4 linked regions of the Homo sapiens genome follow. The protein of the gene in region 3 interacts with the protein of the main gene of each other region in a pairwise test. Each region holds a gene or a part of one and is shown on either strand. Other genes may lie near its edges. The genes, in order: PRPF18, ZNF587, CSRNP1 and PPP1CB.

What was found.
Region 1: the proteins of CSRNP1 (region 3) and PRPF18 interact in binary tests that used the Homo sapiens proteins (3 or more experiments, as listed by UniProt).
Region 2: the proteins of CSRNP1 (region 3) and ZNF587 interact in binary tests that used the Homo sapiens proteins (3 or more experiments, as listed by UniProt).
Region 4: the proteins of CSRNP1 (region 3) and PPP1CB interact in binary tests that used the Homo sapiens proteins (3 or more experiments, as listed by UniProt).

Annotation. Positions count from the first base shown.
Region 1 is NC_000010.11:13,582,620-13,590,621, forward strand, and holds the start of PRPF18 (pre-mRNA-splicing factor 18), read left to right. Parts: upstream 1-4,345; 5' UTR 4,346-4,467; coding exon 4,468-4,533; exon of another isoform or gene 4,534-4,564; intron 4,565-8,002.
Region 2 is NC_000019.10:57,852,495-57,860,296, forward strand, and holds part of ZNF587 (zinc finger protein 587), read left to right. Parts: intron 1-3,609; coding exon 3,610-3,739; intron 3,740-4,522; exon of another isoform or gene 4,523-6,081; coding exon 6,082-7,646; 3' UTR 7,647-7,802. UniProt on the Homo sapiens protein: May be involved in transcriptional regulation.
Region 3 is NC_000003.12:39,143,052-39,150,853, forward strand, and holds part of CSRNP1 (cysteine/serine-rich nuclear protein 1), read right to left. Parts: exon of another isoform or gene 4,891-7,802; coding exon of another isoform or gene 4,778-4,890; intron 4,380-4,777; exon of another isoform or gene 4,095-4,379; coding exon of another isoform or gene 4,075-4,094; intron 3,672-4,074; coding exon of another isoform or gene 3,632-3,671; coding exon 3,427-3,631; intron 2,206-3,426; coding exon 1,946-2,205; intron 1,933-1,945; exon of another isoform or gene 1,868-1,932; intron 1,401-1,867; coding exon 1,086-1,400; intron 994-1,085; coding exon 4-993; 3' UTR 1-3. UniProt on the Homo sapiens protein: Binds to the consensus sequence 5'-AGAGTG-3' and has transcriptional activator activity. May have a tumor-suppressor function. May play a role in apoptosis.
Region 4 is NC_000002.12:28,782,830-28,790,631, forward strand, and holds part of PPP1CB (serine/threonine-protein phosphatase PP1-beta catalytic subunit), read left to right. Parts: intron 1-1,077; coding exon 1,078-1,149; intron 1,150-5,828; coding exon 5,829-5,980; intron 5,981-7,802. UniProt on the Homo sapiens protein: Protein phosphatase that associates with over 200 regulatory proteins to form highly specific holoenzymes which dephosphorylate hundreds of biological targets.

The sequences.
Region 1 (8,002 bases), on a different chromosome or scaffold from region 3:
CTGGGACTTATGCTAGCCCAGCCAGCTCAACCTCCCACCTTCCTATTCTCAGGCCCCCAGACTCCAACTGAATTATGCCCCTGGCTTTCCAGGTTCTTCAGCTTGCAGAAGGCAGGATTGTGGGACTTCACAGCTTCCATAATTGCGTGAGCCAATTCCCATAATAAATCTCTTCTGATAAATACCTATATATCCTAGCGGCTCTGTTTCTCTGGAGAACCCTGACTAATACAGTCACTGTGGTTGATTTCCAGTTGCCAAGGTGGGGTCCTCAAGCCTGGAACTGGTAAGAGGTCTGCAGGAGCCACCATTTTATAGTATTTCCACCACAAAGATACAACAGTCATAAATAACTCCAAGAGCATAAGAGTAAAAATGTAGTAAAATAAGAATTAGGTTCTGTGTATTTATTAACTTCGTTTATAATATGATTTATTTGATTACAAGTAAACTCATTTGATTTTTAATAATTGCTAAGTTTGACAACTGACACAAAATTCTCAAAAATGTAACAATTGGCTCTTGTGGGACGGTATGCACCAGCCTGGCTGAAGTGGCTATCACTCTGGAATTCACATTTTATATATCCTGAGTCTTGGAAGGATCCACTCCATTCCAGTTTTAGTTTTCTAGGGAAGGGACTCTGATTGTCCCAGATTGGAGAAGTCATTCTCTGTGGTCTAACCCTACAAAGCAGTTTTGTAAAGGTGGCTGGATCTGGAGGGAGCCTGCTCCCTTGCCATTAGGAAATTCCCAGAAGCAGCATTACTGGGAGTGGACGGGTGCCCTTTGAGGTGCCTGTGACCGTGCTGCAGACACCACCGACCAGCCTTCCCGCTCTGCTCCAATTCTGAAGACTTGTGCAGACTGCATTTCAGACTGCAAATGCACTTTTTCCCCCGCAGGAGATGACAAAATAATATATTAGGTCGGCAGTTCTCAAAATGAGGTCCCTGGATCAACAGCATCCATCTCCCTTGGGAGTTTGTTCAAAAAGCAAAATCTTGGGTCCCACCCCAAGCCTATGGAAAGACAATTTCTGGGGTTGGGGACCAGCCGTCTGTGTTTCAAAAAGTCCTCCAGGTTATCCTGAAGCATGTTAAGGATTGAGAGCCACTGTATTGAATCATAGAGCTTTTCTTTGCTGTTTAAGTTACATTCCATCTTTTAGGGCAGCCACAAAACAAATCCAGGTGATCCTGATTCAATTTGGCATTTCCCTCCAGTCTCCAGAAATGACAAATAATTTCCTAGGATGAGTTACCTCTACAGAGGAATATCTCATCAATCCTGTACTGATTTTTACCCTTTTTTCTTTTAGAAGATGACTGATTTTTAATTTCTGAAATTATAGCCACATATACACTATTAAATCTTACAAAATTTAACTTTTTAAGGTCTATTTCTTGATTCCCCAACTAACTGGCTATCTCTTTGTGGGCAGGGTCTATGTTTTGGTTTAGGTCACAGAAGCTAATGTAGTATAGAGCTCATATATAAGATATTTAAATATTAGATTGAATAACTATGGAAATTTAAAAAATTCTTTATCTAATTCTTTGCTTTCTTTTATACTCTTCAAAATTTATCATATACAATGTCTAAAATAGACATGCTAGAAAATTTATAAATAGTCTAAATAATAATTAAACAGAAAAAGACTGATACCTGAATTTTCCCCCCATATTATGAGATTTGTACCAAATTGTGGTAAAAAGCAGAAAATAAGAATCCCCAATTGTTCTACTGTCCAGATAAAAACTTGATATTTTGGTATGTTTCCTTCCAATCAATGTTTTATTACGTCTATATGTTTTTGTTAAGAAGCATATGTCTATGTTTTTGTTAAAAAGCAGAGACTATATGCTATAAAGTTTCATTATGCTACTTTTGGACCGAACATTGTATCATGAGCATTCCCATACCATTGAATTTTTAAAAACATGGTTTTTAATGATGCCATGTTATTTGGTTGTGTGTATAAACTATATTTTATTTAACTATTCCTCCATTTAGAACACTTGGGTTGTTTCCAATTTTTCATTTTTATCTCTCATTTATTTATTTTTGTTTTAGAGACAGTGTCTTACTCTGCCACTCAGGCTGGAGTGCAGTGGTGCGATCAATGCTCACTGCAGCCTTGAACTCCTGGGTTCAAGTGATCTTCCTGCCTTGGCTTCCCAAAGTGCTGGGATTACAAGTGTGAGCCTCTGTACCCAGTCCCAATATTTCACTTTTTAAATAATGATTGTGATGAAATGGGATGCATGTTTTTTTAAATGAATATGGTCTCTCTTAGGGTCACGGCGATTTGTTCTTTTAAGTGTTTCTTTTCTTTTCTTTTTTTTTTTTTTTTTTTTTTTTGAGACAGAGTCTTGCCCTGTCACCCAGGCTGGAGTGCAGTGGCGCGATCTTGGCTCACTGCAACCTCCGCCTCCCGGGTTAAAGCGATTCTCCTGCCTCAGCCTCCTGAATAGCTGGGACTACAGGTGTGTGCCACCAAGCCCGGCTATTTTTGTAGTAGAGACAGGGTTTCACCATGTTGGCCAGGCTGGTCTCAAACTCCTGACCTCAGCTGATCCGCCTGCCTTGGCCTCCCAAAGTGCTCGGATTGTAGGCGTGAGCCACTGTGCCCGGCCTCTTTTAAGTATTTCTAAAAGCTCCTGGATATCTTTTTTCCTTCCTTTTGAATGGAAAAGCTTGCTTGTCAGTTGCTTGTTCAAGTATTTCTCTCTATCACTCTTTGATCTCAGGCCTTAATCAGGATTCAGTGCACATGTTTACATAAACGTAGAAATCAATGAAAGTCTAAAATGTAAGGGGAGGCTGTTAACTGTAGCTAGTAACTTCTCTGGTTTACACTGACAGTTTCCCAGGTAGCCAGCCGTTGTGTTCTCTGTAAACTTCCATTGCTGTTACTGTCATCTGTCTTAACCCTTCAGGTTTTTTTTGTGTCTAACAATCCCTAATCCCTAAATCAGGAAAATGCTAATAAATTATTATTTGCTCATTGATTAGTGAGGGAAACCCATATTCATGCAAGAGTGTTGCCATATTTAGTTCAAGGACATTTTCCTGTGTTGGCTTATTTCTGGCAAAAGTCAGGTATATTTTATTTTATTTTGTTTTGTTTTTGAGACAAAGTCTTGCTCTATCACCCAGGCTGGACTGCAGTGGCATGATCCCGGCTCACTGCAACCTCCATCTCCCGGATTCAAGCAATTCTCCTGTCTCAGCCTCCTGAGTAGCTAGGACTATAGGCACCTGCCACCACGCCTGGCTAATTTTTGTATTTTTAGTAGAGACGGGATTTCACCATGCTGGCCAGGCTGGTCTTGAACTCCTGACCTCAGGTGATCTGTCCACCTCGGCCTCCCAAAGTTCTGGGATTACAGGGGTGAGCCACCCCGTCTGGCCTCAGATATCTTTTAGATGAAGTATCACCCCCCACAAAAGACTTTCTAAATTGAAATAATTCAATTGTTCATTTTTTTGTTTTGTAAAGCATTTTACCCATTATCAGCTGACTCAACAAAATGATATTTCTTACCTTTTTTGAGTAAGAAAAACGAAATGTCAAATATTGTTCAATTATGATTTCACAAAAACAATTTTTAAACGTGCTTCAATGACATGAAAAAAATAAGTCCACTGTAAACAAATGTTAGGGACTTAAAAAATCTCTGACATAATTTTTCTCTTCAATTTAACTTTTTTTCCCTTGGGTTGGATTTAAAAAAAAAAAAGGAATTTCTGATTACATCTCCAATCATGTCACTGAAAAATCTTGATTGCTGAACACATGACCAAAAAATGATTAGTTAGCTTGAGGTAAATGTTCAATTATCACCAAGATTGGTAAGCAATCTAAAACAGAGGGAGTGAAGATAAATTGACTTCCAAACTGCTTTAAATGGTTGTAGTCGTTTAAGTTCACAGGAAATTTAACAGGCTAGTAATGAACAGACAGCCCTTTCACTCTATTGTTACAAGTTAGTATTATTGTTTAGATTTTTCTCATCCTTTTGCAAATTTTGCAAGCAAGTAACTTCAGAAACCCTAATGTAAATTTCCAGTTAATAAAGATCTTGATTTAACTGGCATTATTGAGGTGTTCTTCGAGAGGCTTTTGGAACTCAACTAGCAGGTGCAGAGAGTACTACAAAGACCCGGGTTTCCGTCCACGTTCACGTAAACCTCCCTACGAGGGGAAACTACAGGCGCGCTGCCGGAGGGCGCCGCCAGTGGGCACTCACGCACAGCTGCTTTGGCCACCACAGGCGCCCCGGGCCACTCTCTTCCCTCATCTCTCTCATCCCAGCTTCCGCCGGAAGCGGCTCCTGTCAGTTGTTCTCAGGTGTTTGGGCTTGTTGTTCCGTATACTCAGTGGGTTCGCGGCCGCCGGCCCAGTGAGGCTGGGTTCGAGGAGCTGGAGCGGGAAACTGGAGCTTAAATTCTGGCGGCGAGATGGACATTCTGAAATCAGAGATCCTTCGGAAGCGGCAGCTGGTGGAGGACAGGAACCTGCTGGTGGTGAGGACCCTGCGGTCGTGGGGGTCGGGATGTAAGAGTGAGAGTATGTGTGTCGGGGTTTTGGGGTGAGGGTGACGATACTCAGAGGATTCGGGGCGGGGACGGGGCTTAGCGAGTGTCCTGCCACTACCCCTGGTAGGCCCCCTTAGATCCAACCCTTGGCGTCTCACTGTTGAGGCTGGAGAATAGGGTCTGAGAGCAGGGAACTTGAGTACAATTCGTGCTGACTTCCCAAAGCTGGATCAAAAGGAAAACACCTGGGTCTGGGGGCGGGAACCTGAGGCCAATTAACGCCCACGTCCAAAAGCCAAACCAAAAGAAAAATCCTCATCTTCCCACCACCGAGTAGCAAAGGCTTCAGGCTGCGGCTCTCCCCGCATCCCTGCCTTTCCACCACCTCTCAGATGGGAAGGGAACGTGCCCTGCATTGGCCGTGGGCCAATCACGGGCCATCCCTTCATCTGCATAGGGCGCCAGTTCACCTCAGTCTTTAGCCACAGACCGAACCCTTCATCCAGATACGGGGTAGCTGATAGGGACCTCAGAAGGAGTACCTAAAACCCGGAAAACTTTGTAACCGGGGCCTCGAGCCGCTTGCTCGGGCCCACTCACACCCTGTGGAGTGCTTTCTCGCGTTCATAAGTCCCTACTTTTGCTGCTTCATTCCTGTGTTTTGTTACTTTTTTTGTGCGTTTTGTCCAATTCTTTGTTCAAAACGCCAAGGACCCGGGCAACTTACACTCACGGCCTTCTTTCCGGTAACCACTTGGGAGCCTTAGGGATGCAGGTGTGGGAATTGCAGGAAAACCCGAGGCTTTGTTTGTTTTCCCCCGACTGACCCTGTTTCCCTCCAGTTTACCTAACTGCCCCCTATCCCCGCTCCTACCTGTTGGCATTCTGCGGACGTGCCCCAGTGCTCCTGAGAGTTCCCTTCTGTCGCCTTACGAAGGGTTTGTGCCCAACTGAAACATGGAGGAAGGGCCGCCGGGCGCGGTGGCTCACACCTGTAATCCCCACACTTTGGTGGGCAGATCACCTGAGGTCAGGAGTTCGAGACCAGCCTGGCAAACATGGTGAAACCCCGTCTCTACTAAAAACACCAAAATTAGCTGGGCGTGGTGGTGCGCGCCTGTAATCCCAGCTACTCAGGAGGCTGAGGCCAGAGAATCACTTGAACCCGGGAGGCGGAGGTTGCCGTGAGCCGACATCGCACCACTGCACTCCTGCCTGGGCGACAGAGTGAGACACCGTCTCAAAAAAAAAAAAAAATTCCTTCTAGCCAGGTGTGGTGGTGCGCGCGTCTAGTCCCGGCTGCTTGGGAGACCAAGGCGGGAGGATCGCTTGAGCCCAGGAGTTCAGGCTGCAGTGAGCTATCATCGTGCCACTGCACTCCAGCCTGGGTGAGAGACCGAGTCCCTGTCTCTAAAAAAAAAAAAAAAAAAGTAATAAAATTCCTTTCTAATAGTAAATCCCAATTTTTTAAATTCTATTCCTCCTCCTTCTCTCTTCTTCAACACATGAAAAGTCTGTAGGCCTGCTCTTCACTGATGGGAATGCTAAGACTCTTTTGGAAAGGTACTAAAAAGGGGGAGAAAGAATTACATGATTTAGGAACTTCCTGAAGATGATCTCCCTTACTTTATTGTGTAGCAGTAACTTAGACCGCTGGTTCTCAAAGCTTTTGGTCTCAGGACCCCTTCACACTCTTAAAAGTTACTGAAGATCTTGAAGGACTTTTGTTTATGTGTTATTTCTATCCGTATTTACCATATTAGAAGTTAAAACTGAGAAACGTTAAAAATACTCACTGATCGATCATTTGGAAAACATTGGGTTACTGAATTATGCAGGTCTCCCACCTGTTGACACATTTCATTACAAAATATGAAAAGATCACTTCATTTAATATCCACTGATCTGAGAAACATCTGTAAGCATTAGGAAACTGTCAGGCTCCTGATGACAGATCTAAGTTCACCACACTTAATTTCCACTTGGAAGCTGGAATTTTATCATAGGCAACAAATATTATCAGTTATTTTCTTGAAGTGATCTGCTCACTTTGTTCAGTTTGGGGAAGTTGTCTGCCAAATACCCAAGTCTGAAGAACCATGGTTTGCCGGGTGTTCTTAAGTGTAAAAATGGTATTCCGTGAAAAAGCCAGTTTAGCTTGCAACTCAATTACTTTCCTCCACACAACCAGCAAACTTTAGTATAAATGAGAATTGTTGTATGCATCTTTCCTGTTTTGTCACATAATATTAAAAAGATATGGCCAAAGATCAAGACTTAATAAAAATAGTAATTTTACTCCTTTATCATAAGGAGTAAATTTGTTTAGAGAAACTGGCTCCCTCTGGCTGCAGTGGCAGTTTAGAGTCACTGCCTTGGTTCTTGCTAAGGCTTTAGCAAATTTACCATTGCTTTTCACCTACAGTGCAGATGTCATCAGAGTGAGCAGGCAGATAATGCCTTACTGTAGAAAACACTTTTGACCTCATGAGTCCTCTCAGAGGGTCTACAGGACCCATGGAAATCCGTGCATCACAGAATATCTGACTTAGATATTTGGATGTTGTGTACGATTGATGTATGTGATGTAGTGTAAGTAAGTTAGAGTTCTTAGCTTGGTAAATGGCAAATTTCATGATCATTGAAACTTTAAAAACAATTAGAAAAGTGGAGGTAATAGAATGCTGTTTGGTAGGTATGGGGAAAAGCTTGTTCATATTTGTAAATGTTTTTATGTCTACTGCAGGGACCTTTTGATGAGTGGTTGGGAGTATTTTAAATTTAGGTGTTGGAGTGCATAGTGGATGTTAGGAAGGGCCAGGGTGTTGAAATCTAAGTGCTTTAAAGGGAAAAGTGAATCACAAAATATTCAGCCCACCCTCAAGGTTCACAACATGAATATTTGCATAATCATGTTCTTCGTCATTGAAATGCACCAATCTACAAAAATGATCATTAAAAAAAAAACTTTAGATTCTTCAGGGTCATTTATAATTTATAATATATAAACTTTTCCTGGGTGTCTTTCATTTTTTAATTTGGTAGTTGATTGAATTATCACATAATTCCAGCCAGAAGATAAGATTGATTTTTTCAATCACAGAGCAGTTCAGACCAACAAAGGGCGTACATGAAATGGGAATTAAAATACTGACATTCGGCCGGGCGCGGTGGCTCACGCCTGTAATCCCAGCACTTTGGGAGCCTGGGGTGGGCAGATCACGAGATTGAGACCATCCTGGCTAACACGGTGAAACCCCATCTCTACTGAAAATACAAAAAAAAAAAATATATATATATATATATATTAGCTGGGCATGGTGGCAGGTGCCTGTAGTCCCAGCTACTCAGGAGGCTGAGGCAGGAGAATGGCGTGAACCCGGGAGGCGGGGCTTGCAGTGAGCTGATATTGTGCCACTGCACTGCAGCCTGGGCGACAGAGCGAGACTCCATCTCA
Region 2 (7,802 bases), on a different chromosome or scaffold from region 3:
AGGATTCACTTTTTGTAAAGAGACAGCTAGGTTTTCTTTTTTTTTTCTTAACGTGGAATTTCAGTCTTGTTGCCCAGGCTGGAGTGCAATGGCGCAATCTTGGGCTCACTGGAGCCTCTGCCTCCCAGGTTCAAGCAATTCTCCTGCCTCAGCATTCAAGGTAGCTGGCATTACAGGCACCCACCATCATGCCCAGCTAATTTTTGTATTTTTAGTAGAGACGAGGTTTTACCATGTTGGCCAGGCTGGTCTCGAACTCCTGACCTCAAGTGATCGTCACATCTCGGCCTCCCAAAGTGCTGGGATTATAGGCATGGACCAATGCGCCCAGCCGAGACAGCTAGGCTTTTTTTTTTTTTTTTTTTTTTTTTTTTTTGAGACGGAGTTTCACTCTCTTGTCCAGCCTGGAGTCTAGTGGCACAATCTCAGCCCACTGCAACCTTCACCTCCTGGGCTCAAGTGATTCTCCTGCCTCAGCCTCCTGAGTAGCTGGGATTACAGGCATGTACCACCACACTCGGCTAATTTTTCTATTTTTAGTAAAGTCGGGGTTTCACCATGTTGGCCAGGCTAGTCTCAAACTCCTGACCTCAGGAGATTCGCTGGCCTCTGCCTCCCCAAGTGCTGGGATTATAGGCACGAGCCACCATGCCTTGCAGACAGCTAGATTTTCTAATGTGGATGATAGGAGCATGAAAGAGGAATCGGGCATGAGCCCAAGGTTTTTGATCTTAGCAGCTGTAACCATGCACACTGCTTCAGCTGAGATGACGTTGGTATTGACATAATATTCACTGTGGATATCCAGAGGGTTGTTTTGGCCATATGAAGAATCAGAGACCAATAAGTGGTGGCATCAAATCGATAACTAGACATACTGGATGGGGTATCTGGGAGGGTGTTGATACTGGAGACATCCAATATATGAAAGCTAATGAGTGAACTATGATTAGTTATGGGTCCATTTAGGAGGACATGCTTCAGATTATGGTGGTAAATCTTTTCAGGGGGCAGAAAGGTGTGATTACAGGCTGAGGACTGGATCTCTTACTTACGTCCTCAATTGATGTTATTGGGCTTCCTAAACACCTGAGAGGGTGTGAGTGACCATCATAACAGGACATTTAATACAGTAGAGTTTGGAAGGGGACATAGACATCCAAAGAGATAATAGAGAAGAGATAGATGCATGCAGAAGCACAGGAGTAATTCAGGGAAGATGACACTTAGGCCTGAGTTGGTGCCAAAGTTGTAACTTTTTTGTTTTTTTTTTTTTTTCAGATGGAGTTTCGCTCTTGTTGCCCAAGCTGGAGTGCAATGGTGCCATCTCGGCTCACTGCAACCTCCACCTCCTGGGTTCAAGCAATTCTCCTGCCTCAGCCTCCCAAGTAGCTAGTATTACAGGCACCTGCCACCACAGCAGGCTAATTTTTGTATTTTCGGTAGAGACAGGGTTTCACCATGCTGACCAGGCTAGTCTTGAACTCCTGACCGGGTGATCTGCCTGCCTCGGCCTCAAAGTGCTGGAATTGCAGGCGTGAGCCACTGTGCCTGGCCAGTTGTAACTATTTATCACTGTCTGGACTCATAAACATTTTGAGATGACTTTGGGAGTGCCTGGGGAGTTTCATTCAGCCTGGTGCATATGGGCAGTGAAAAATATGCTCATCTGTGATAGTAGATGTGGTTTGGTTCACAAATCCAGGGGCTGGGCTTTAAACGGCATTAGGTGGACAGAGGAGGGTTGCTACAGCTGAGGTCTCAGCTGGTGCAGCACAAAAGTGAAATAGGGCCATGGCTATCTGAAGCCATATGTGGTTCTGTGTGGCTATGGAGTCATTCCAGGAGACGTTCACAGGATGATTTGGGATTACCACTGCTATTGTAAACCATGGAAATTCTGTGTTAATATTGGATGCTATTTGTATTTGTCAAGCATAGTCTGGATGCTTATCCACATTTTGGTATAAGGCCAGAATTGAAGGCCCAATATGATGTGTCACTTTGACATCTTGTGAAAGTGGGACAACCTTAAAAGGTGTGAGTACAAATCTCATTCCCACTCTGCTCTCTTGAATAATGTATCCTAGCCTAACAGCCCGTTTTATCAAGGTGATAAGGCAGGGTTCCAGGTTGTTATATTTTGTGGTGGGTTTCAATTCCATCCCTACCAGCAGAGTTATGGAAACAAACCATTGCATATTCCCAAGGGAATCATGGGCCGTTATACCCTCTTCATCTTGTGAAATAATTTTATTTGTAGGCGCTGGGTGTGGTGGCTCACCCCTATAATCTCCTCACTTTCAGAGGCCAAGGCTGGTGGATCACTTGAGACCAGAAATTCAAGACCAGCCTGGCCAACATGGTGAAACCCCGTCTCTACTAAAAAAAAAAAATACAGGCCAGGCATGGTGGCTCAAGCCTGGAATCCCAGCACTTTGGGATGCTGAGGTGGGTGGATCAGGAAGTATGGAGATCGAGACCATCCTGGCTAACACAGTGAAACCCCGTCTCTACTAAAAAAAAAAAAATACAAAAAATTAGCCAGCTGTGGTGGTGGGCACCTGTAGTCCCAGCTACTCGGGAGGCTGAGGCAGGAGAATGGCCTGAACCTGGGAGGCAGAGCTTGCACTGAGCTGAGATCATGCTACTGCCCTCCAGCCTGGGGGACACAGCAAGACTCCGTCTCAAAAAAAAAAAATTAGCCGAGTGTAGTGGTACATGGCTGTAATCCCAGCTACTTGGGAGGCTGAGGCACAAGAATCACTTGAACCTGGGAGGCGGAGGCTGCAGTGAGCCATGATTGTGTTCCTGCACTCCAGCCTGGGTGGCAGAGCTAGACTATGTCTCAAAAAAATCCCCCAAAAATAAACTTTTACTTCTGGGGATGCCAGAGAGGGGCTGAAGGTTGGGGAAACTCTGGTGGGGGTGGCCATGGGCATGTGTCTGTACAGTATAAAGAATGATATATATTTAATGAGAGCGAGGTTGTCTGATGGACTCAGGCAGCTGCCTTGGGCTTTACGTGACCTTGGATATCGCTGTTCAGAAGGGGGTGTGGGCTTTTTTTGTTTTTTTTTTTTTTGAGATGGTGTCTCGCTCTGTTGGCCAGGGTGGAGTGCAGTGGTGTGATCTCGGCTCACTACAAACCCCGCCTCCTGGGTTCACGCCATTCTCCGGCCTCAGCCTCCCGAGTAGCTGGGACTACAGGTGCCCACCACCATGCCCGGCTAATTTTTTGTATTTTTAGTAGAGACAGGGTTTCACCATGTTAACCAGCATAGTCTCTATCCCCTGACTGCAAGATCTGCCCGAATCAGTGTCCCAAAGTGCTGGGATTACAGGCGTGAGCCACCGCACCCAGCCCAGAAGGGAGTGGACCTTTTTATGTCAGGACCTCAGCATGGATACCTATTTGTCCACCTACTTCTTGTTGCTGATGGCATTTGACCAGCAGGCCCATGAAGAGACAAAGGCACCAGTGGATGTGGTTTCAACTCCGTGTTGGGGACCTTGGGAGGAGGATGGGCAAGGGTGGGTGTGTGGGAGAGGTGGGTTGTGGTACCTCAGCAGAGGGGCTGCTTGTGGTTTCATCTGTCACTATCATAGCAGGGCACTGTGACCTTTGAAGATGTGGCTGTGAACTTTTCCCAGGAGGAGTGGTGTCTTCTTAGTGAGGCTCAGAGGTGCTTGTACCGTGATGTGATGCTAGAGAACCTGGCTCTCATATCCTCGCTGGGTAAGTTGCTCACGCTCACCTTTGTGACCTGAGCTAGTGTTACTGTTCCCCTGTTTTTCATTGACAGGACTGTCTTTCTCACCTAAGGAGCCTGGACACAGGTTCCTTCTGCACTTCTCTGTGTAAGTTGTGTGGTTCGTAGGAGTAAGGTGTGTGTATTGCCTTTTCCTCTCCTGTTTTTTTTTTTTTTCTGAGACAGTGTCTCGCTCTGTCACCCAGGCTGGAGTACAGCGGCGCCATCTCGGCTCACTGCAAGCTCCACCTCCCGGGTTCATGCCGTTCTCCTGCCTCAGCCTCTCAAGTAGCTGGGACTACAGGCGACTACCACCACGCCTGGCTAATTTTTTTTGTTTTTTAGTAGAGACGAGGTTTCACCGTGTTAGCCAGGATGGTCTTGATCTCCTGACCTCGTGATCCACCTGCCTTGGCCTCCCAAAGTGCTGGGATTATAGGCGTGAGCCACCACGCCCAGCCACCTTTTCCTCTCCTTAAGCAGCTCCAACACCTGCTTTGCTCCAGGCTCCCAGGGAAGGAGTCAGAGTCAGGAGTCTTATAGGCACCTTAATGTATCCACTTTGCCTGCCTCTGGCTGTCAGGTGACTGTCCAAATCGGTAGCTCTTGTGTGCCCAGGTTCTATTAACACTTCCTTCCTCTATCTGACAATGCTTTGTGCCTCCCTGTGCCAAGAATTGCCTTCATTGACATTGTCACTACCTACATAGACCATAGACCATAGACTCTTCTTGCAAGACCCTGCTTAGGAATTCTTTTGTAATACTTACCTTACTCTCCTGTGGGCTGTCAGGTGCTTAGTTGTCCTGAGCTAGTGTTGGCTGTTCATCTCTGCTATCTCTCCTTTCATAGTTACATCGTCGGGTCCTATGTACTGGGTGTGAGATGGAGAGTCCTCCATGTTTGACAAGATGTGGTTCAATTCAGGCTCATCACGATAGGCTCAAAGGGAGCCTGTCCCTCAGGAGTGCCATGCTGGGGGAGGGCATGACTTCAGGGGTTTATCCAAATCATACCAGAAACCATTTACATTTGCCAAGTATTTTTGGGGCAATATGAGTAGGCACACACTATTTGTCTTTTTCTCCCCATTGTTGAGAGTTTCACATGTGTTAGTTCTGTACCTTTTCATTTCTGCAGTGATATCCACCCCAGCACTAATACTCACATTTCTGGACTCCACATCTCACCCATTTTTCTTTTGCTTTCATCTGCAGTTGTCTCTGATATTGGTGTATTGATTACGTATTAGGAAGTGTATGCCCATGGTTAAACCATCTATGACCACCCCTGCTGTGTTGTACTCATGTTTTCTTGGTCTTCACATGTTTCTATATATATATAGATGTATATATATGTGTGTATGTGTATATATATATATGTGTGTGTGTATATGTATATTTTTGAGAGAGAGTTTTGCTCTTGTTGCCCAAGCTGGAGTGCAATGGTATGATCTCGGCTCAGTGTAACCTCTGCCTCCTGGGTTCAAGCGATTCTCCTGCCTCAGCCTCCCAAGTAGCTGGGATTACAGGCACATGCCACCATGCCTGACTGACTTTTTGTATTTTTAGTAGATACAGGGTTTCACTATATTAGCCAGGCTGGTCTCGAACTCCTGACGTCAGGTGATCTGCCCGCCTCGGCCTTGCAAAGTGCTGGGATTACAGGAGTGAGCCACCGTGCCCGGCCCATATTCTTCTATATAGCACTCACATGTCATCAGGAGATAAGGTCCTGTACACAACTTGTTTGTAGAGGAAGGAGCTGTAGACCCTGCCTCTACTCCCTGTGTTGCATATATGCTTGTGCTCTTTACATCATGAAGCCTCCTGGATTCTGTGACCTTTATAGCCCAGGAATTCTAAGAAGCCCCATCTTTTTTTTTTTTTTTTTTTTTGTGATTGAGTCTCACTCTGTTGTCCAGGCTGGGGTGCAGTGGCGTAATCACTGCTCACTACAAACCTCTGCCTTCTGGGTTCAAATGATTCTCCTGCTTTAGCCTCCCGAGTAGCTGGGATTACAGGTGTCCACAACCACATCCAGCTAATTTTTGTATTTTTAGTAGAGATGGGGTTTCACCATGTTGTTCATGCTGGTCTTGAACTTCTGACCTCAGGTGATCCACCCGCCTCAGCCTCCCAAAGTGCTGGGATTACAGGTGTGAGCCACCATGCCCAGCCAGCAGCCCCATCTTCAACTTGAAGCCAACATTGTGTTCCTGCAAATATTTCTATAGATTAATTCCTCAATTTGTGAGACGTACTTGTGGGTGGGCTGTGCCTTCCCGCCGGAGGTACTTTGCACTTGACCAGCATTTTCTTGCTTTCAGGTTGTTGGTGTGGATCAAAAGATGAGGAGGCACCTTGTAAGCAGAGAATTTCTGTACAAAGAGAGTCTCAGAGCAGGACTCCTAGGGCAGGTGTTTCTCCTAAGAAGGCTCACCCCTGTGAAATGTGTGGCCTCATCTTGGAGGATGTTTTTCACTTTGCTGACCACCAGGAAACTCATCACAAGCAGAAGCTGAACAGGAGTGGAGCATGTGGAAAAAACTTGGATGACACTGCATACCTTCATCAGCACCAGAAGCAGCATATTGGAGAGAAATTCTACAGAAAGAGTGTCAGAGAAGCATCGTTTGTAAAGAAACGTAAGCTCAGGGTGTCACAGGAGCCATTTGTCTTCCGCGAGTTTGGGAAGGACGTTCTGCCCAGTTCAGGATTGTGCCAAGAAGAAGCTGCTGTAGAGAAGACAGACAGTGAAACTATGCATGGCCCACCCTTTCAGGAGGGAAAAACTAATTACAGTTGTGGAAAACGCACAAAAGCCTTCAGCACCAAACACTCAGTTATTCCACACCAGAAACTTTTCACTAGAGATGGATGTTATGTGTGCAGTGATTGTGGAAAATCCTTTAGCAGATATGTCAGCTTCAGTAATCATCAGCGAGATCACACTGCAAAAGGACCTTATGATTGTGGAGAGTGTGGGAAATCTTATAGTCGAAAGAGCAGCCTTATTCAACATCAGCGAGTCCACACTGGACAGACAGCTTATCCCTGTGAGGAGTGCGGGAAATCTTTTAGTCAGAAGGGCAGCCTTATTAGCCATCAGCTTGTTCACACTGGAGAAGGGCCTTATGAGTGTAGAGAATGTGGGAAATCTTTTGGTCAAAAGGGTAACCTCATTCAACATCAGCAAGGTCACACTGGAGAGAGAGCTTATCACTGTGGGGAATGTGGGAAATCTTTTCGTCAGAAGTTCTGCTTTATTAACCATCAGCGTGTTCACACTGGAGAAAGGCCTTACAAGTGTGGAGAATGTGGGAAATCTTTTGGTCAAAAGGGCAACCTCGTTCACCATCAGCGAGGTCATACTGGAGAAAGGCCCTATGAGTGCAAGGAATGTGGGAAATCATTTAGGTACAGATCCCACCTCACTGAACACCAGAGACTTCACACTGGGGAAAGACCTTACAATTGTAGGGAATGTGGGAAATTATTTAACAGGAAGTATCATCTTCTGGTTCATGAGAGAGTTCACACTGGAGAAAGGCCATATGCGTGTGAGGTATGTGGGAAATTATTTGGCAATAAGCACAGCGTGACTATACATCAGAGGATTCACACTGGAGAAAGGCCGTATGAATGCAGTGAATGTGGGAAATCATTTCTTTCCAGCTCTGCGCTTCATGTTCATAAAAGAGTTCATTCTGGACAAAAGCCTTATAAGTGCAGTGAATGTGGAAAATCCTTTTCTGAATGTTCCAGTCTCATTAAACACAGGAGAATTCACACTGGAGAAAGGCCTTATGAATGCACCAAATGTGGAAAAACATTTCAGCGAAGCTCTACCCTCCTTCATCATCAGAGTTCACACAGGAGAAAGGCCTTATGAGTGCAGTGAATATGGGAAATCGTTTGCTGAAGCATCCCGTCTCGTTAAACACAGGAGAGTTCATACTGGAGAAAGGCCTTATGAGTGCTGTCAATGTGGAAAACATCAGAATGTCTGCTGTCCTCGGTCTTAAGCGACTTCGTGTTGAGATGGAGT
Region 3 (7,802 bases):
TCCTCACACCGGCACAGGCTCCATTAGAGATGCTGGGACAGTGTCCTCAAACTGGCTGTCAATAAAGGGATCTAGGGCTTCGGCGGCTGGCTCGGAGAAGCCCATGAGGGACTCCAGGAAGCAACTGCTGGCATCCCCAGGTGGAGACAGGCCAGGCAGGGGGAAGTGAGGTGCCTCGATGTTGTCCAGGCTGTCAGACACCTTCTGTGATGTGTAGTGAGGCCCCAGACTATAATCTGGCAGAGCCTGGAGTAACTCAAAGGAGTCACAAGAAGACAAGCTGAGATCCACTGAGCTACTCCGGCCAGCGTCCATGCTGGGTGGCACTGAGGTGCCAGGAAGGCTGCCTTCCCTTGACCCTTCAAGGCCACCATTTAGGAAGCAGCTGGCATCCAGGTTGGCATTCTCATCCAGGACGCCTGATGTGAAGCTACAGCCAGAATAGCTGTGGGTCCAGCTGGCCAGGCCACCAGGGTCACTAGTACCAAAGATGTCAGCTGGATGGAAGCAGCTGAGGTTGTCCAGGTTCCCCACGCTCCCTTCCTCCTCTTCCTCCTCCTCCCCACCGAAGTCAGAGTCACTGAAACTCAAGATGCGTGCCAGGCTGTCATCATCAACGCCAGGCTGGAAGCCAGGGCCAGGCAGGCCTGGGTGGGTGGGGCAGTCAGGAGCCTCACTAGTGCCCGATGCTGATGAAGATGCTGTAGAAGAATCAGTCATGTCGCTGCTGCAGCTGTTGTCTCCCAGCTCATTGTTCATGGGGGGCTTGGCCAGTGGGAAAGTAGGGACCAGGGCCTCCTCACCAGGGCTGGGTGGGCTGCCCTGGGCAGGGGCCTCCAGCTCCCTAAAGCTCTCAGCCTCCTGTTCCAACTGCAGGCGGGTGAGTGTGTGGATGAAATGGGTCTGAACTCTTGCCTGATTAAATTCCACACGGCCCATGGGGTTCTCACAGCCCTCCCTGCAGCAGCCACAGGGGAATGCTGTGTGGTCCATCTGCAGAGAAAAGTAGAGGTACAAGTGAGGGTTCTGTGGAGTGCAAAGAAGTCCCCACGCTCAGGATCCCCATCCCAGTCCAGCCACCACACCTGGCACTTGATGCCTGCCAGGCTGCAGCTGCAGGTCTCAGGGTCGCAGATCCTATCGCAGTGACAGCCACAATCCTCCCGGGATTGGCGCAGTGCCTGCAGCTCCCGCTTCTCCTCCCGATCGATCCTTCGCACACCTGAAGCCCTCAGCAGAGCTCGACGTCGCCGGGCTGGGTAGGGCTGTAGGAAGCTCACTTCTTCCAACCGGCCACCTGCCACAGCGACTGCCAAGTCCTCCTCCACAGAGGCGTCATCAATGGCATCCACCACAGGTGGCAGCCCTGCCTCTGCCTGGGGTACCCCAGCTGCCGAAAGCTGCATCCACAGGAAAGAGGGATGTAAGAAGCACAGACATGGACATGGGCTTAGCCCTACTGTCACTAGACAAACCCTCCCCAAGTGCTTACCCCCCCACTACTCGTGCTTAATCTGCGATGGGCACTGTGTGTCAGACAGTGAACAGGACAGCCAAGAAAACTGCCCTCAGGGCATTTGAAAAAAAAAAAAAGAGATATCCTACTCATGGCATTCCCTAGATCATGGACAGACTCCCTTTCCTAACCAGACAGATACGCACCCCCTCCAGTTCATATCAACTTCACATCCCCCTCTCCAAAAAGTTCAGATTCAGGTATCATGCCCCCAGCCCCTGCAGCAAATAGACACGAGCCCTCCTCTGCGCCTCCTGTTGCAGACAACCCAGGCAACAGGCTCCAATCAAGCCAATCACCAGGCCCACAGGCCTGTTTCCCCATAACCATAATGAGCAAGTCAGCACCCACCCCTGGTACGCCCACCCCTCAAGGTTAGGACTCCAGGAGCTGCCTCAGGAGGTGCGCCACGGAGAGGACTCTCTCTACCTTCCACTGCAGCATCTCCAACTTCTCCTCTTTCAAGCGCTGGCGGAGCTTCTCGTGCCGTGCACGGGCTTGCTCCTGCGCAAACTCAGCCAAAGAGAAGCGACGGCAAGCACTGTGGCGAAGGGCCATACCCAGAGTACAGCCACCACGGCTGGGCACACTGGTGAAGCCCTGGCAGCGGGGGAAGTAGAAGACGGTGATCCCATCAAAGGCTACACGGCCTGGGCGCTCCCGGCGAGCCCGCTTCAGGATAGACAGGGCTAGAAAGCAGGCAAAGATGGGCTGGGGATTAGTTTTCAGTGAGGCACAACTTACCTCCAAAAAGATCATGCCAGACTGCCCTCCCGCCTCCCACCTTTTCCCTCCTCCCTCTCCACCCATTTTGAAAAAAGAAATGTGAATTTAGGAGCCTGTGTGGTTGGGACTGGAGCGGCTGAAACTGAATACCACACCCATGTCAGAACTGGCTTATTGTTATTTACCAGTCCAAATGACAGTATTCGTAAGATTAAACATCTTTCCTATGTTTATTAGCCATGTACAGGTCCTTTGTACAGTTTTCTATTGTTTTTTATTGATTTGTAGGATTTCTGTGTTTTGCAACAGGCTTAAAAAGGCTTTCCCTTTACAAGTTAATGTTTATTGATTAGTAAGCTATGTACTGGTATTTTCATTAGGTTGAACCATAGCAAATTACCATGTAATGGTCAAATATTGGAAATTCCATATATTTCAACTTACTATATTAATTTTGTACCCAGCTACCAGAGGGAATTCCCTTCTAAAAGGTTTTCTGTTTATACTGTTAGATTCCATGTGCTAAAAATTATATTCTTTTTATGTGTAATGCACAGATATATACCTACAGTACATAAAAAGGTAAACAGCACATCTATTGTATTAAAATTTCATGGTGGGGGATAATTAAGGAGAAAATGTCTAAATAGGCTTCCTGGGGAACAATAATGAAAAATAAGGTCCAGAAACACTGCTCTAGGGCCATGTTCATCAGTCTGGAATCACAACTATACAAGCTTGAAAATAACCAGGAAAAACCCCTTTTCACTATGTTCAGGCAAAATGGACAGCATTTTGACAGGAGAGGGACCGGCTTGACAGGCCCCGTGGCAGAGAAGCATGGGGCGGGCGGGGAACTCCAGCAGTTCCATTTGTAGGACGGTAGGGTGCTCATTGGAGAAACGAAACTGGAACAGAAGGGAGGGGCCAGACCGGGAAGGCCCTGAGAGCACTCTGCAGAGCTGCATCCCGGATGTCATCACTCCCAAGGTCAAAGGTGAATTAGCTGGGCTCAGGTGCCCCTGGACAGTGGACACTGAGTGACCACTATATTATAGCTCATGAGAGCTACCGCCATGGGGACCTAACCACCAGAGGCCAAAGGCATTTGGTCAGGGACTTCTAAATTTCATCTTTCAGGAAGGCAGGCAGGTGATGGAGTTCCCAGGGGAGGGAGTACTCACGGGTGAAACTTCTGGGGCCGCAGAAGTCACGGTCAGGCAGGGGCATCTGATCCCAGGGGCCTTCCTCCTCTGAGTCCCAGGCACGGGAGACAGAAGAGCTTGGGGAGCAGGAGCGAGACTGGCACCCAGAGGAAGAGGAGGAGGAGGAGACCGAGGAGTTGTCCTCATCCAGCTGGTCAAATTTCCTCTTCAACAGCCCAGTCATGGTGGTGCCGGACGTGCTCTGGGGTCTGGGGACAGACAGCCTGGAATAGGAATGAGAAGGCTCTAAGTGGCAGGCAGGCAGCAGCAGGTGGACTTCCAGCCAGGATCATCATCCCTCCCACTTACCCTCCAAGGCATCCCAGACCCTGGCCTCTGCCCTCCAGCCCTGCCTGTGGAGCTCTGTGTGGGGGAGGGCACAGTCTCCAGGAGGATCTCTGCACAAGACACAGCACCTCCCTCCCTCCAAACTAATGTGCAAATCCACAGCCTGATGCTTCAAACTCCCACCTCTGCCCAAAGCCTTCCCAGGCACCAGGCACCTTCCCCACTACCTCCTACAACACACACTTACATACATACACAAAACACACACACACACACACACACATGCATCCACACCAGCAGGGGAAGGAGGCAGACAGACCAACAGATGGACTGACAGACCTCAGCCTGGTCTCACTCATTCCCCGACAGGAATCCTGGCGCTGACTCACAGGCTGGGTGATTCACACAGCTTGCATCTGTGTGCCTGTGTGTGTGTGTGTGTGTGTGTGTATGTGTGTGTGTGTACGCCCTACAGCCCGCACAGCCCGCACGGCCCTGGTATGGTGGCTCTGCTTCCTCCTCCTCCTCCTCCAGCACATCCAAACAGGCACGCCACTCTGCACACAGGCAGGGCTGCGGGCCCTTGCTCCAGGCTAGCCAGGCACTCTGGGGAACAGGCTGGCTTTGACGTTGGCCTCCATTCCTAGACGGAGTAGTTTCTGAGCCCTTCCCCTCCCGGTGTGGGAGCTTCTCAGACTTTCCCTTAGAAACCCCCGCTCCACTGTCAAGAAGTCTCCTGCCTCCAGGCCTGTGTGACCACAGCCACTAAGGCTGTCTCTTTAACATCTCATTTGATCCTAATGTCCAAAGTCTCTCCTGTCTGTGGCTTCGTGACATGGAGCACCCCACAACACAACACTGTCTCCCAAGTGAGAGTCTCAGCCCTCAGCAGAAGCATAACCAGAGACTCCCACAGCTGGCTGGCCTTATCCAAGCAGAAGAGACTTGGGGCTCATTCCCTGGAATGCTTCAGCAAATAAGGGTCCTTCCCAAGGTTTGGCAAGCCCCAGAGGACTCAATCCCAAAGGCTGAGTACAGCTACCTTGTGTCTGTTGCTCCAGCTGGGCCTTCGGGGAGGTCACCAGGGGGAAAGGGAAAGGAAGTTGAAGCTGAGGCCGAGGCCCCAGTGCTGGGGAACCCTTCCCCCACTGCCATCACAGGAAATGAGAGAGAACAGGAAAAACCAACCAGAAGGCTGTCTTGGTCTCCTCTACTCAGGTGTCCTTTCCAAACACTCCTTTGCCCTCTTCCCAGCCGCCTACAAAGTCCCCGAATCCTGTAGAGTTTGCTGTCAACCTTACTAACTGGATAATGTTTACCCCAGGGACAGCCTCCCCTAGGCAAGCGTGAGAGAAGCAAGAAAATCTCCCTCCCCAGCCAATCCCCCACCCTGGGCCTGGGGGAAGACTCACAGATGTTTCCGGGGGCTTCTCCGTGGGTAGTTTCTCAGGCTTGGCACCCCCCTCCCAGGGTCAAACCACAAACAAAAACAACCCAGCTCCCAGCTGACCAGCAGGTTCTCCCAGGAGGTGGGGGATTCATGACCCAGAGGCAGGCATACTCACATGTACACACATGCTCAGACAACACGGAAACACACATATGGACAAACAACACCCACACATCCTGTCCCCATCGCATCCTGCCAAGAGACCCCATCCTTTCCCCAGTTCCAGATGCCATCTACAGGGCCCTGAATGCCTCCTTCACCACACATCCAGCCTGAGATCCCCCAGGACCCACTGCCCACTTGTTATCTCCGCCCAACCATCCCCTAGAAACATAAAATTCTGCAGGCCCCAAATCGAACCCCTTGTGTCTGTTCCCCACCCCCCATGCCATCTGTTCCTCTTCCTGTGTTCCCTATCTTAGTAACAGCCCCACCACCCACCCAGTCACTCAAGCCAGAAACCTGCAGTCATCCTCAACTCCTTCCTCTCTCTTCCTCCATCTATATCCAGGCACGCCATGCCTGGGAGTTCATGTAAATCCGTTTAATCCACACAGAGCCAGGAACAGACCCAGGAGGTATCATGGAGGCCACGTGGCCGTGTTAAGAGCTTCGGCTCCAGGACCAGACTGCCTGCTTTTGCATGGAGGCCACGTGGCAGTGTTAAGAGCTTCGGCTCCAGAACCAGACTGCCTGCTTTTGAACTCTGGCTCCACTGTTACTTGGCTGGGTAATCCTGGGCAAGTTCCTTAACCTCTCTGTGCCTCCAATTCTTTGTCTTAAGACCTCATAGGGTTGGGGGGTTTAGAAGAATCAACACATGTCACATGTTCTTAGATTAGTGATAAGTGCTCAGTGAATGTGTTATTCCACACTGTTTAAAAAAAAAAAAAAAATGAGCTCCAGCTCCTGGATGCACACGACACAGATGCATCTCACAGACATCATGCTGAGTGAAAGAAGGCAGACACGAAATACATGCAAATGTTCAAAAAAAAAGGCAGAACTACTCTGTGATGATATAAGTCAGAGCAGTGGTTCCCCAGGAGAGGGAGAAGGACACCCTGGAGAGAGTCATGAGGGAAATTTTCTGGGGTGGGAGGTAGGAAGGGCTGGGGGACCTGTAAAAGTTCTATGTTGATCTGCATGGTGGTTAAATGAATGTCTAAAATTGTAAAAATTCGTCTTATGGACACTTAAGATTTATATACTTACGCATTTTATTTAGGTTACTATCAATTTAAAAAGTTCACTAACCTTAACATGTCTCTGTCCCCACAGTGGCCACCCCATGTCCCTCTACTCCTGCCCTCTTTCCCCAGCCATTCTTGATCCTGCAGCCAGAATGACCTTCTTAAACCACACATTTACCTGCCACTCCCACGCCTAGAACCACTCTATAGCTCCCCTTGGGGCATTAGGATCAAGTCCAGAATTCAAGAAGCTGAAGCTGACCTGGCCACTGCTTCCCTCTCCCCACCTTGCTCTCTTTACTCCAGCTGAACTGGCAGTTCCCGTAATGGCCATGTCCCTGCTCACCTCCTGGCCTCTGCAAAGCTGGAACAACCCAGCCTTATTCCCTTTCAGAAAGTCATCTTTCAAGGGGCTTCCTGAATCCCCCACTCCTTCCTCCTGCCTTTCTGTGCTCCTGCTATGGACTGAATATTTGTATCCTACCAAAATTCTTATGTTGAGACTGAATCCCCAGTGTGACGGTATTTGGAGGTGGGCCTTGGGGTAATCAGGAGATGAATGACACCTTATTAGCACCTTTATAAGAAGTGACACAAAAGAGATGGTCTCCCTCTCCAACATGTGAGCTCAGACCCAGCAAGAAGGTGTCCATCTGCAAGCCAAGAAGGCAGACTTCATCAGGCTGACTAGAGCCTTGATCTTGGACTTCACAACCTCCCAAAGTGTGAAAAATAAATCTTTTGTTTAAGCAACCCAGTCTATGGACTTTCCATTATAGCAGCCCAAAGGAAAACAGCTCCCAAAAACCCTGGTATTTCCCTATCACAGACTATATCTGATCAGACTGCAAGGGCCTCATTGCTCATCTGCCTCACACTGAGGGCATTTCTCTCTGGCTGCCCATGTGCCCATGTCTAGGACAGAGTCTGGCATAGAGAAGGCACCTGATAATACCAGAGGTAAGCAGACCAGCCCTGCATATCGGGTATAGACCCAACTGCACAGGCAATCTTACCCACATGAGGCTGCTGAGGGCGACTGGTCAGTGTGACCTTCTCCTGCTCCTGTCACAGTTAATTTAAGAGGGGCAGGAGGAGAGTCACATGTCTATCCCCCAGCTGTGCCAGAGGGTACAAGCAAGAATGGTGCTCAAAAAGGGTGGCTCTGGTGGCAGGAGAGGGAAGCTCAGGCTGCAGGCAGGTGCCAATGTAGGCAATCCCAGGAGGCTCCCTGGTCCCCCAAGAGGAAACAGATGGAGAGAGATGTCAGGAAAGCAGGCTCAGATACGCACTGCGGCTCTGCCTAAGGGATCGCCACAGAAAGAGAACTTAAGGTGAGGAGGTTATGACCTCCAAGCCTACAGACAGGGAAACAGAGACACAGGGAAGCTACGGTCATGCTGCAGGTTCTAGTGATGAACAAT
Region 4 (7,802 bases), on a different chromosome or scaffold from region 3:
GCTGAAAAGATAGATGCACTTGCCTAGGCCCGAGGTAATAAATGGTTTATTCTCTGGCAGAACATAATTCACTATATTAATTGAAATATGTTTTCCAGTAGACATTAAACACGTAATGAATTGTAGTTCTTGTACATTAGTGTAGCTAAGGATAGAAGTGTAGCAGTATGGATACGAATGTTTAGCTTCATTCCTTGTGATGATACTTGGATTGCCTATCAGAGAGAAATAATAGCTTATATACCACTTCAAAGATTGCAGAGTATTTTTATGAGCTTTTCCTGTTAATCCTTCTGATCAATAGTTTATGACTTCATGAAGATAATGAACATGTTGGAGTGGGATGTGAAAAGAAGGTCTTAGGGAACCAAGTGAGGCACTTTCACTTAGAAGTTAAAATGTTTAAGATTAGTGGTAAGAACTGGCAAAAGTGGTAGGAAGGGTTGCAGTTGATTATGTTTCTATGAAGGCCAGGGAATGATTGGAAAAAAGAATGGTAGTTTTTTTTTTCCTTGGGAAGTCTTTTGAAATATAAAGGAATTTCATTTCCCTGGTAGGGAAAAATGGAAAAAAACAATTATAATGCTGTATTATATCAAAGTGGAATTCCTAATAACTCTGTGTTGCCCTTTAAGACATTAAAAGGGGCAGGGCGCGGTGGCCCACGCCTGTAATCTCAGCACTTTGGGAGGCCAAGGTGGTTGGATCATGAGGTCAAGAGATCGAGACCAGCCTGGCCAACATGGTGAAACCCCGTCTCTACTAAAAATACAAAAAATTAGCTGGATGTGGTGGCGCGCGTCTGTAGTCCCAGCTACTCGGGAGACTGAGGCAGGAGAATCGCTCGAACCCGGGAGGTGGAGGTTGCAGTGAGCTGAGATCACGCTACTGCACTGCAGCCTGGGTGACAGAGTAAGATTCTGTCTCGAAAAAAAAAAAAGACGTTAAAAGGAACACTTTTCAGTATCTTTAATTTCACATAGTGAATCTATTTTGATTAAATGCTTTTTATTCGGTGACTGTTAAAATATTAAAATTTTTAGCTGTTAGTACTATGTCTCATCTTTTTATTTATAGGATTGTCACCAGACCTGCAATCTATGGAGCAGATTCGGAGAATTATGAGACCTACTGATGTCCCTGATACAGGTAAGTGTAGAGAGAAGTTTAATTGTTTTGTGTAAAGTGTTTTCATATTTGAACTTGATTACATTTAGTGGAAGTAGGATTGGCTTATGTAATAAATAAAAGAGCTTTTTTCATAGTCAATAAGCCAGCTACAGATTACTTTATTTGCAGTAATACACAATTTTTCACTTTGCACTGATCCTCAAAATGCGGAACCTTTTTATTTATAGTCATAATGTAGTTATTTGATCACAAAAAAGATTTTGCTGTTGAGTCCTTATACCTATTTTTCTAAATTCCCTCATTCATACTAGCATTGGTTATGTTCTTCAAAAATTTGTTAAATTAGACAAAAGTTTTTTAATTAAAATAATCTATTCTTTGCTTCTTAGGCAAGGATACAACTACCTTCTTTTCAAATGTCTAGTAGTTTTTTGTTATTTTCTATGTCCTCTATTTGAAATTTTTAGAGCTTTTTTTCAAGGGGGTGTGGGAGGGATTTCAATCTGTTGCCCAGGCTGGCCTTGAATTCCTAGGCTCAAGCAATCCTCCTGCCTCTTCTGAGTAGCTAGGGGACTCCAGGCATGTGCCATACCTGGCTTAAATTTTTAGAGCTCTTAAGGCTCTAGAGACCTGTGGTCAGTTTTGTGAAAATTACATTGGAAATCTCTGGGAAGGCTGGGAGCAGTGGCACTCACGCCTGTAGTCCCAGCGCTTTGGGAGGCTGAGGTGGGCAGGATCACTTGAGGTCGGGAGTTCCAGACCAGCCTGGCCAACGTGATGAAACCCCATCTCTACTAAAAATAACAAAAATTAGCTGGGCATGGTGGTGCGTTCCTGTAATCCTAGCTACTCAAGAGGCTGAGGCACGAGAATTGCTTGAACCTGGGAGACAGAGGTTGCAGTGAGCCGAGATCACACCACTGCACTCCAGCCTGGGTGACAGAGTGAAACTGTCTCAAAAAAAAAAAAAAAAAGAAAAAAGAAACAACAATCACCACAAAAAATGCTGCTCAGAACTACACATCAACCATTATAAATGGTATAGATCCTCTGATGTCAGTAGCCATGTAATACACTGTATGTTGTAATAAATTGTGTTAGGAGCTTTTTTTTTTTTTTTTTTTTTTTTTTTTGAGACAGAGTCTTGCCCTGTCACCAGGCTGGGGGGCAGTGGTGCAACCTCGGCTCACTGCAAGCTCTGCATCCCGGGTTCAAGTGATTCTTCTGCCTCAGCCTCCCGAGTAGCTGGGACTACAGGCGCCCGCCACCACACCCGGCCAATTTTTTGTATTTTTAGTAGAGATGGGGTTTCACCATGTTGGCCAGGATGGTCTCGATCTCTTGATCTTGTGATCCACCCACCTTGGCCTCCCAAAGTGCTGGGATTACAGGCGTGAGCCACCACACCTGGCCTGTGTTATGAGCTTTTTTACATAACACGACTTGTTGTGTTGATTATTTTTTAAAGTATGCATTTTATCACAGTTTTTGATTGTAATTATAGAATACATTTGACTAAACCTAACAAACTGGTATTTAAATAGTATTTTATTTAAAATGCTGTTTTTAGGCCTGGTGCACTAGTTCATGCTTGTAATTCCAACAGTTTGGGAGGCCAAGGCAGGAAGATCACTTGAGGTGAGGAGTCGAGACCAGCCTGGGCAACATAACACCCATCTCTACAGAGAAAAAAAAAATTTTTTTTTTTAATTAGCCACATGTCGCAGCACCGCGGCTACTCAGGAGGCTGAGGCAGGAGGATCACTTCAGCCTGGGAAGTTGAGGCTGCGGTGACCTGTGATTGTGCTCCTGCATTCTAGCCTGGGTGACACAGTGAGACCCTCTCTTTCAAAAAACACCCAAAGTGCTATTTTTAAAATAAGGTATAATATAAATATGTATTACTGGTCATTCTTCAGAATATCTGTTTATAGTTCAGATGTAAACTGATCTAGTGTGATATGCTAGGCTTCTGTTTTTAGCATGTTTTATTTATTTTAGCGTATTTTAATGAGAAGTTTTCAAGATGCTGAAAACAGTTATTTTGATCTTTGATAGTGTCTGCAACATTCAGAAATTTAATTTATAAGTTAATACATTATTTGAAGCAGCCTAGTTGATTGTGATGCTAGCTCATTAAACAATAAATCTTGACTCTGAAATTCTTTTTGAGACAGAATTTCACTCTTGTCGCCCAGGCTGGAGTGCAATGGCCTGATCTCGGCTCACTGCAACCTCCACCTCCCAGGTTCAAGCAGTTCTCTTGCTTCAGCCTCCCAAGTAGCTAGAATAACAGGTTCCTGCCACTGTGCCCAGCTAATTTTTGTATGTTTAATAGAGACAGGGTTTCACCATGTTGGCCAGGCTGGTCTTGAACTCCTGACCTCTGGTGATCCGCCCACCTCGGCCTCCCAAAGTGCTGGGATTACAGGCGTGAGCCACCATACCTGGCCTGAAATTCTTATCTAGACCCTGTTAAGGTTAAAGAATTCCAGATTGTTGTTGCTACCATTATTTGATTTTTTTAATGCATCCAGAGTGTCATGTTTCCTAAACCTCAAACTCTATTCTAATTTTATACAGTTTTATTGTCTCACTGAAATTATAGATTCTTGAGATCGAGACCATCCTGGCTAACACGGTGAAACCCCATCTCTACTAAAAATTCGCTGGGTGTGGCAGTGGGCGCCTGTAGTCCCAGCTACTCGGGAGGCTGAGGCAGGAGAATGGCATGAACCCGGGAGGTGGAGCTTGCAGTGAGCCGAGATCGTGCCACTGCACTCCAGCCTGGGTAACAGAGCGAGACTCCGTCTCAAAAAAAAAAAAAAAAAAAAAGAAATTATAGATTCTTAATACCTTAGCTTTCTACTGGAAAGAGGCTGGAAAGTATGAAAGCATTATTAAGCACTGGGTGGGTGTATATTTTCGAAGAGTCAGCTTCAACCAGAAAGGGCTTAAGAATTGAGACTGACTATTCCAGTGGATTTTGTGTGCTAGTGAATTTCTTAAAACAACATACAGGGAGCTTGGGATATATCAATGATAGAGATTGAATACATTGCCACTAATTCTACAAATGGTTTTATAATGCCTCTATCAAGATATGATGTACTGTAACTGAAAATGAAGATGCCCTTTCCTCCTAAACCATACTATGATGTTTATGGATTATTTAAAATTCTTAAAACTGACTTAACTCTTTAAAAATTATCTTCTTGGCTGGGCGCGGTGGCTCACACTTGTAATCCCAGCACTCTGGGAGGCCGAAGCGGGCGGATCACGAGGTTAGGAGATCGAGACCATCCTGGCTAACACAGTGAAACCCCATCTCTACTAAAAATACAAAAAATTAGCCGGGCGTGGTAGCGGGCACCTGTAGTCCCAGCTACTCGGGAGGCTGAGGCAGGAGAATGGCGTGAACCCGGGAGGCAGAGTTTGCAGTGAGCAGAGATTGCACCACTGCATCCCAGCCTGGGCAACAGAGCGAGACTCCGTCTCAAAAAAATATATATGTATCTTCTCTTAGCCACTGCAATTCTTAGAAAATCACCATCACCATCTCAACATCCACCCTTCTTTTAATATCACTACAGTTGGACTTTTACCCACTCCGTTACCCTCAATCACCAAGAAACTTGCATTGAGGTCTGATGATTTAATTGTAAGTGGCACATTTTTGGTCTTCGTCCTACTGCCCTTGTTCATGGCACATTTCCTACTTTAGGACGATTGTTTCCCCTTTCGGGATACGTTTACTATACTAAGCCCTTTGTCTTGATCATTCCTTCTCAATACCTAATGTTCATTCTCCCTCATCTACCTGCCTATTAAATGTTTGAATTCCTCAGAATTCATTTGCTGGTCTTCTCACTTTGTATTCCTAAGGTGGTCTGAGTCCCTCTTAAGATTTCCACTACCATTAATATGATGACAATACTCAAGTAAATATTTTTAACCCTGACCTCTTTTCCAGGGCTCCAAACATTACCAAAGTCAAGGATCTGATCTGATTTTGTTCTTCCACATTTAAAAAAAAATCCTCAGGGTCTCAGTAGAAAATGTTTTTTTTTCGCTCAAGTGATCTGTAGATCAAATACAATTCCAGTGAAATCACAATTGAGTTTTTTATGGAATTAGGCAATTGTTTTTAATGTTTATGTGGAAGAACAAAAGATCAAAAAGTAACCAAGACAATCCTGAAAAAAAAATGGAGGATACTAGCCCTACCAAATATAAAGACTTATTAAAAAGCTCTAGTCTGTTATTGGCTCAGGGATAAGTAAAATAGACTAACAGAATAGACTGTGGTGCTCAGAAACAGTGGAACCGTAAGGAAAGGATGAACTGTTGAGGAAATACCACTGGGTTGTTTGGTTATTCATATGGAGAAACTACCCAAAAGATGAACAGCCTTTTCCATGTATTGTTGTGCTGTAAGTGCCATGCACATATTTCCTATATGTGGAAAGGGTTGGAAAGTACTACCTTAAGAGGCCATGGAAGATTATATTTGTATGGTTTGTATGGTTGCTTTAACAAAAGTATAAGTTACATAGGCTGGAATACTTAGGCAAGTGATGGTCATTGTTTAGTAAAAGGTAAGAGGGCAAGAAAGGAACTGAAATTTGATGTAGATGTGCTATATTCTATAAATCTGTAAATTTTGTTCTTAATTGCTGTATTTCTGTCCTTTAAAGGTTTGCTCTGTGATTTGCTATGGTCTGATCCAGATAAGGATGTGCAAGGCTGGGGAGAAAATGATCGTGGTGTTTCCTTTACTTTTGGAGCTGATGTAGTCAGTAAATTTCTGAATCGTCATGATTTAGATTTGATTTGTCGAGCTCATCAGGTATGAAATATAAAACTCTTAAGCTTTTTCTTTTTTCTTTCTTTTTTTTGGGGGCAGACGGAGGGGCAGACAGATTCTTGTTCTGTCACCCAGGCTGGAGTGCAATGGCGCAATCTCTGCTCACTGCAACCTGTGCCTCCCGGGTTCAGGCAGTTCTTGTGCCTCAGCCTCCCAAGTAGCTGGGACGATAGCCGTGTGCCACCACACCTGGACTCTTAAACATTTATTATTTGTTAACTTCACATAAGCCCTCTCATTTTGTTTTGAGGAAACATATCCAAGAAAGCTAAATGAGTTGTACAAGGAAAGCAGTAGGAGAGGTGGCAGAGCCAGTTCCTGGATCTCACACTTAACAATCTAGTGATTTGTTAACCTTTTATCACCCTAAAAGAGGAAATGTTTAGAAATATTTTGGGGCTGGGCATGGTGGCTCACATCTATAATCCCAGCACTTTGGCAAGCTGAGATGGGTGGATTGCTTAAGTACAGGAGTTTGAGACCAGCCTGGGCAACAAAATGAGATTCCATCTCTACAAAAAAAATCAAAAATTTAGCTGGGTGTGGTGGTGCGTGCCTGTGGTCCCAGCTACGTGGGAGGCTGAGGTGGGAGGATCGCTTGAGCCTAGGAGATCAAGGCTGCAGTGAGCCATGTTTATGTCACTGCTCTCCAGCCCTTGTGAAAGAGCTAGACCCAGTCTCAAAAAAAAGAATGTATTTTTGTAGTATACAGCAAACCTAACAAAATTTTCAGTGCTTCTTTGAAGCTTTGTAGATATGATTTAGATTTTTTTTTTTTTTTTTTTTTTTGAGATGGAGTCTCACTCTGTCACCCAGGCTGGAGTGCAGTGGCACAATCTCTGCTCACTGTAACCTCCGCCTCCCAGGCTCAAGCGATTCTTCTGCCTCAGCCTCCGGAGCAGCTGGGATTACAGGCACGCACCACCACGCCTGGCTCATTTTTGTATTTTTAGTAGAGACAGGGTTTCACCATGTTGGCCAGGCTGCCCTTGAACTCCTGAGCTCAAGTGATCTGCGCCTCAGCCTCCCAAAGTGCTGAGATGACAGGCGTGAGCGTGAACCACTGTGCCCAGCCTCATTTTTATATAATCTTTGTGCATAATGGCGATTTTGATAAGAGCAAACCACACTTTAAAAAAGTATTTTTGAGACCATTGAAGAATTTGATTGTGGCTCAGTGCAGTGGCTCATGTCTGTAATTCCAGCACTTTGGGAGGCTGAGGCAGGCAGATCCTTTGAGCCCCAGGAGCTGGAGACCAGGCTGGGCAACATGACAAAACTCTGTCTCCACAGAAGATACAAAACAGCCAGATGTGGTGGTGTGCACCTGTAGTCCCAGCTTGCTTGGGAGGCTGTGGCAGGAAAGTCGCTTGAGCTCAGGAGGCAGAGGTTGCAGTGAGTGTAGATCGTACCATTTCACTCCTGCCTGTGCAATGGGTGTGAAACTCAGTCTCAAAAAAAGAGAACATTTGATTGTAGACTTGGTAATAGGTATGAATTATTTAATCTTTTAATTTTTTGTTTTTGTTTGAGGCCGAGTCTCACTCTGTCACCTAGGCTGGAGTGCAGTGGCATGATCTCGGCTCACTGCAACTTCCGCCTCCCAGGTTCAAGTGATTCTCCTGCCTCAGCCTCCCGAGTAGCTGGGACTACAGGCGCCTGCCACCACGCCTGGCTAATTTTTGTATTTTTAGTAGAGACGGGGTTTCACTATACTGGCCAGGCTGATCTCAAACTCCTGACCCCAGGTGATCTGCCCACCTCAGCCTCCCAAAGTGCTGGGATTACAGGTGTGAGCCACTGC